Linked DNA regions of Homo sapiens: region 2 is linked to region 1. Evidence: fine-mapped expression QTL. A gene starts in region 1. The other region holds a variant in brackets. All regions are shown on one strand. Distances are from middle to middle.

Region 1 (2,909 bases):
TTCTGTGCACAATCAAATGCAGACTCCCCAGCATGGCCTCAGGGCCCTCCTGGCCCCTGGTTTCCTGATCTCCAGTTCCTCTGGTCTTGCTACTCTTAGACAAAGGAGGACTTCTCTTGGTTTTCTGCCTACCCAGCCAGAAGATCCCAGGCCATGGGCCTGTGGAGCCAAAGTTCTTAACCACTGCACTGTGTCACCTTTCTATGATGTCAGGCCTCAGCAAGGCTTATGAAGGAACAGGAACAGCCTTGAAAATGAAGTTGGGAAGGGATAGGCCAGGCCTCCCAGGAGCCCAAAGCTTGCAGAGTCCCCTTGGTCTCATTGGCACATGGAGAATGGATTGATCAAGTCCACCAATCAAGTTTTGTGGGTCTAACAGAGCAACTCCTGCCAAGTGGGAGGAGCTTAGGGACTTTCTATAACCTCTCCTGGGGCAGAAATGATGGGCTGCAGCAGTGTCCAATCCTAACTCCATGATCTCCTGGGAGGGCAGGGCTTCATGGCAGTTCCTGTCTGCTCTGCACTAGAAGCTTGGCATTGCAAAGGGGCTCAGCTGTGGAATGAAGCAGGGCTTCTTCCAGAAATGTTGCATGTACTTCCTATTCCCTTTCTTTATTGCAATATGGATAATTTATCATCTGAGGAGGGAGTAGAGATTCCAGGGTAGCTTGCCTAAGAGTTGTGGCTTATTAATTCCAACTTTTTGCAAGATCAAGGGGGAAAAGCAATCCCTGATTTTGTGTGAGTATGGGGATTGGGTCTTGAGGCCCTGAAAGTGAGGTTCGGGTCTCACAGATTGCTGTGAAGAGTTATTGACCCACCTAGAAGAGAAGCCTAGCCCAGGGCCTGGCGCACAGTTGATGGGTTTGCTTCCTGGTTATTCTTCCGTCCTTGTCTGGAGCCCTGCACGCCTCTTCGTAGCTTAGGAAGAACAAGCTTCTCCCTGCGGCTCAGGGTGAGGAAGTGGGAGAGAACACCAGCTCCAGGGAGGCTTCTAGCACCAGTCAGCCTCAGTTAAAATCCTTGCACCTTCATTGACTAGCTGTGTGACCTTGCACGAATCATTCCCCCTCTCTGTGCCTCAGTTTCTTCATCTGTAAAATGGGGATCATAATAGTACCTCTCTCAAAGGATTGAGGTGAGGATGAAAGGAGTGAATCCAGGAGCATGCCTGGAAGAGGCAGGAAATGCCTCCTAGACAATAGCTATTTTTGCAGCCAGACAGATCTGGGTTTGAATTCTGCCACCAGTGCTAACTACTGTGTGATTTGGGGCAAGTGCCTTGACCTCTCTGGACAGCTGTTTCCTCATCTGGAAATGGGCTTGGTAACAGTCCTGGCTTCCAAAGTTGGTAGTGTTCTTCTAGTAAGCAAGCTGTGTGAAACGGTGGAACCCTGGCCCTGGTGCAGAGAAGGGCATGATGACCGTGTTAGGGTCTGTCCTCTCTGGAACCCCCTCCTGGGAATGGCAGAGGGCAGTGGGGTGCTCTGAGGCAGGCTGCTGCCCTGTCCCCACTCCCCCTCCCCAGCTGCCCCGCCCCAGCTGTGACGACCTTGTCCCTGCCTGTCTAAGGGGCAGGAAGGAAGTGAGGAGGGCAGCCAGCAGCTTCCCCTTCTCTGCCCTGCTCCAGGCACCAGGCTCTTTCCCCTTCAGTGTCTCAGAGGAGGGGACGGCAGCACCATGGACCCCCGCTTGTCCACTGTCCGCCAGACCTGCTGCTGCTTCAATGTCCGCATCGCAACCACCGCCCTGGCCATCTACCATGTGGTGAGTGTGCGGGCCCCGGGTGTGTGTGCGTGCGTGCTTGTGTGAGTGTGAATGTCTGCGGTGACCCGTCATCTACGGAGCCCCACAAATGAAAGAACTCCTGCTCTCCACCTCTCTGGGGGACCCTGGGCAAATCCCTGTCCTGCTCTGGGCCTCAGTTTCCTTCTCTGTCAAATGGCTGGGGGTACCCTGGGGAGATGCCGCAAGAGTGAGGAGTAAGGGAGCTGGAATCCACTTTCCAGGCAAATGTAACTGACGTTCACTCCGAGGCTGGCTCCGTTTCTGCCTCTGTGAGATGGGGCACAGCAGCAGCCGGAAGGTTATTTGTGTGCAAAGCCAACAGCAGATGTGAAAGTGCTTTGGAAGGCAGGGATCTTGGGAGGAACGTGGGCTGGGATTGTTTGACCGGGATGTGAGGTCGGCCGCAGACACAGCCCCGATTCTTCCCCTGGGGCCTGGAGGGAGCCTGGGCCACTCGAGGGGATGAGAAGTGGGGATCTCCCCTTTGTGCCTCCAGTGGGGAGGCAGGGGCCGTGTCCTCTCAGCTTCCAGCTCAGTCAAACCACGGCCTTCTGCCCACCAAAGAGAACTTGAGACCTGTGCTAATCATTAGGGTAACTTGTCCGGCCCAAGCTCTTGTTGGGCAACTTGTGAAGTCACGGCTGTCACTGGTTCCTCCTTTCCTGGTGACTCACAGTGTGGTCTTGGGCAAGTCACAGTGCCCGGGGGCCAAGGCTGCCCCTCTGCCTGGGGTGGCTGAGGGTCAGTGTCCTTGTACTGTCCTGCCTAGACCCACCCTACTCCCAAACTCCTGGCCACACTCATCTCCCCTAGACCCAAGCGACTTCCTCCTGGGGTGACTCAGGGCCTGTGGTTAACAGTTTTCTCATGAGTCTGGAAGGGCTTCCTCAAAATTAGCCTAGATCCACATGCTGCGGTGGGTTGCTGCAAACTCAGACCTGCCTGCGTCTGCTTCCTGTCACAGGCAGGGCAGGCAGAGCTGTGGCAAGAGCCCAGCCTTCAGGGGGGCGATGCTGTTCAGTGGTTAGCCCACGGCCTCTGGATGCAGACTCCTGCATGCAAATCCTGGCTTCCCTGCTTCCCAGCTCTGCAGCCTTGGGCAATTTACTTAACCTCTCTGA
Region 2 (2,909 bases), 23 kb after region 1:
AGAAGACAAGCACTCCACCATCCACACCCCACACAGAGAGCATCACTGCTGACAACTGGGTGCATTTCCCCCCAGCCTTTCTGTGGTGGTGGGTGGGCATCTGCAGACCCCAGCTCCTGCTTCCATCTGAGGCCCTGGGCAGTCTCTGCTGTCACCTAATGCCAACCTAGAAACAGAACCTTGCCCCTTTTAGCATCTTCTCCAAGGACTGACCTAGCACAAACGCACTAGTGAGTGTACAGTGAGAACACCCCTGAAGGCCTCATGGGGGAAGCCAGTGTGGGCTTTCCATGGCACTCTCTACTGCAGGACCCCTCCGCAGACCCCAGCACACAGCTCCGTCCCCCAGCTCCCCTTCTGTTTTTTATCCTCCAGAATGAGGGGCTTCCCTCTTTGACCCTCATTCTGCCTCTCTGGCCCCCTCCACCGACTTGATTTTCCCTGGGCCTTCATGCTTCATTCTTTGTCACTCCGTACCTCCATATGTCTCCTTGCCCCACCTATGTGCCCATCAGGGAATCCATCAAACAAGACCTTCCAGTACAGGACCCTCTCCTCTTACTCAGGGGGCATCCTGGGGGTTTTCTGTTGTTTCTTGAGCTTGCCCCTTGGGATTGTATGCCCCACTCTGGAAAGCTTCTGCCCAATTCTTACATTAACTTGCATCAGCTGATGGACATGTACTAACTGTTCCTCCTTTATAAACATGGACCAATACTGCACATGCTGTTTTGTAATCTGCTTCAGAAAACAACATATCGGAAGCAATTTTGAAGAAAACATGTCCCACCATCAGCTCTGTTTCGAGATGGGCAGGGCTGTCTCAGGAGGTAGTGAGCTTCCAGGCAGTGTGGGCAGTCAAGCAGGAGCTGTGGGACTATTGCCAGGGAAATTGGAGGGTGGGCTAGAAGCCCCCCAAATCCCCTTGCTATGTGGTATCTGTGGGGCAATGAAAAGGGCAATACCTGGAATATTCTGGACTGGCTGGTGAGGAACCCCCAACCAGAATGAGAGGTCCGAGCAGGAGCAGCTGGATGCTGGCTTCTGGAGAGAGTGGTGGCTCCTGCCTGGCATATGTCCTAGGCCTGCTGGAGCGTGAGAAGGACGCTCAGCAAAGCACAGCCTGACCTGGGCCTTTTTCCAGGTCTACATGTTCAAGTGCGTGTGGCGGTGCTACAGATTGATCAAGTGCATGAACTCGGTGGAGGAGAAGA[G/A]AAACTCCAAGATGCTCCAGAAGGTGAGTGTGGCTGCAGGTGGGTGCCAGCCCTGTCACTAACTCCCTGTGCCATTTGGGTCAAGTTTCCTTCCCTCTCTGGACCTTGGTTTCTCTATTTGTAAGATGAGGGTTGGAACAGAAGAAATGTGTTCTCTTTCAGTTCTGGTAGTCTAAGATTCATTCACTCACTCATTCATTTATTCAGTATTTACTGCCTCTCACTCTTTGCTAGTCTCATATCGATTCCAGGAGGCGCAGAGAAAACTAAGATGCCACCTCTGCCTTAGAGGAGTGTACAGTTCAGACACATAGATACAATTACAACTTGGTGTGAAGCACAGGGACAATAAGCACAGAGGAAGGACCTGGCCTCTTCTCAGGTATCAGGGAAGCCTTCCTGGAGGAGGTGACAGTTAACTGGTCTTGGAGGGTCAATGGATATGAGATAGCTGGGAAAGCAGAAGGAGGCTTTCCGGGAAGAGAGGATGAGGTGTGCTTAGAAGCAGCTTATTGGAAAGTGACGGTTTAAATTCCTGGTAACTTACTTTCCTCACCTGTAAGGTGGAGATTGTATTAGCTAAGACACTTTTGGTTGCAAGTGGCAGAAACCCAACTCAATCTGACTTCAGGAATTTACTAGCTCACAGAACTTAGCAGCCAAATGTAGGTCTGGCTTGGGCCTGGCTGAGTCCTGACATCAGGATATGATCTCGTCCTCTCCAACTCTTGACTCTACTTTCCTTGATGTTGGCTTCATTTTCCGGAAGCCCATCCCTTGTGGTGGCAAAAAGGCTGCCAAAACCCCTAGGCAGATATCCCACCCTCTCAGAAATCCCAACAGAAAAAGAAGGTCCCAGGAGTATGTCTGATTGGACCAACTTGGGCCACGTGCCTATCCCCAAACCAAGGACTATAGCCAGGGGGATGGAATTCTACTTTGAGTGGCCAAGTCCAGCCACCTCGCTGGATCTGAGGGATGGGACCAGTTCTTCTGAAGGTATATGGACTGAGAATGTTTTCCCAAGGAAAATGGTGCACTGTTTTCAAAATAAGGGGGACTTGATGCTGAATAGGCAAAGGCAAATATGTCCACTACAGGGCTGGGAACTGCACCTATCTCATGCAGGCAATGTCTAGCACATAGCAAATATCCAAGACCTGCCAGTCATTATCATCATCATTTTGCCAGAGGTGGGGGTTTGGGTCCCATGACCCCAGGTTGGAATTGCAGGTCATTCTTGACCATACTCAGCCCTCATCTCTCTGTCTCTCCCAGGTGGTCCTGCCGTCCTACGAGGAAGCCCTGTCTTTGCCATCGAAGACCCCAGAGGGGGGCCCAGCACCACCCCCATACTCAGAGGTGTGACCCTCGCCAGGCCCCAGCCCCAGTGCTGGGAGGGGTGGAGCTGCCTCATAATCTGCTTTTTTGCTTTGGTGGCCCCTGTGGCCTGGGTGGGCCCTCCCGCCCCTCCCTGGCAGGACAATCTGCTTGTGTCTCCCTCGCTGGCCTGCTCCTCCTGCAGGGCCTGTGAGCTGCTCACAACTGGGTCAACGCTTTAGGCTGAGTCACTCCTCGGGTCTCTCCATAATTCAGCCCAACAATGCTTGGTTTATTTCAATCAGCTCTGACACTTGTTTAGACGATTGGCCATTCTAAAGTTGGTGAGTTTGTCAAGCAACTATCGACTTGATC

What was found. PIP is the estimated chance that this variant, and not a neighbour inherited with it, causes the effect.
Region 2: its variant is fine-mapped to the expression of LAPTM5 in whole blood (INTERVAL, PIP 0.96).

The regions. Positions count from the first base shown.
Region 1 is chr1:30,756,517-30,759,425 of GRCh38, reverse strand. LAPTM5 (lysosomal protein transmembrane 5) reads left to right here and starts at 1,652. Exons shown (of 8, transcript NM_006762.3): 1 at 1,652-1,767. The coding sequence starts at 1,681. RefSeq lists enhancers at 503-572, 1,641-1,920, 2,049-2,845.
Region 2 is chr1:30,733,501-30,736,409 of GRCh38, reverse strand. LAPTM5 (lysosomal protein transmembrane 5) reads left to right here. Exons shown (of 8, transcript NM_006762.3): 7 at 1,145-1,237; 8 at 2,493-2,909. The coding sequence ends at 2,582. Among named protein-coding and RNA genes, the nearest start is that of MIR4420, 4.3 kb to the left of the region's middle. RefSeq lists an enhancer at 2,585-2,909. The variant G/A (reference allele first, on the strand shown) is at 1,215.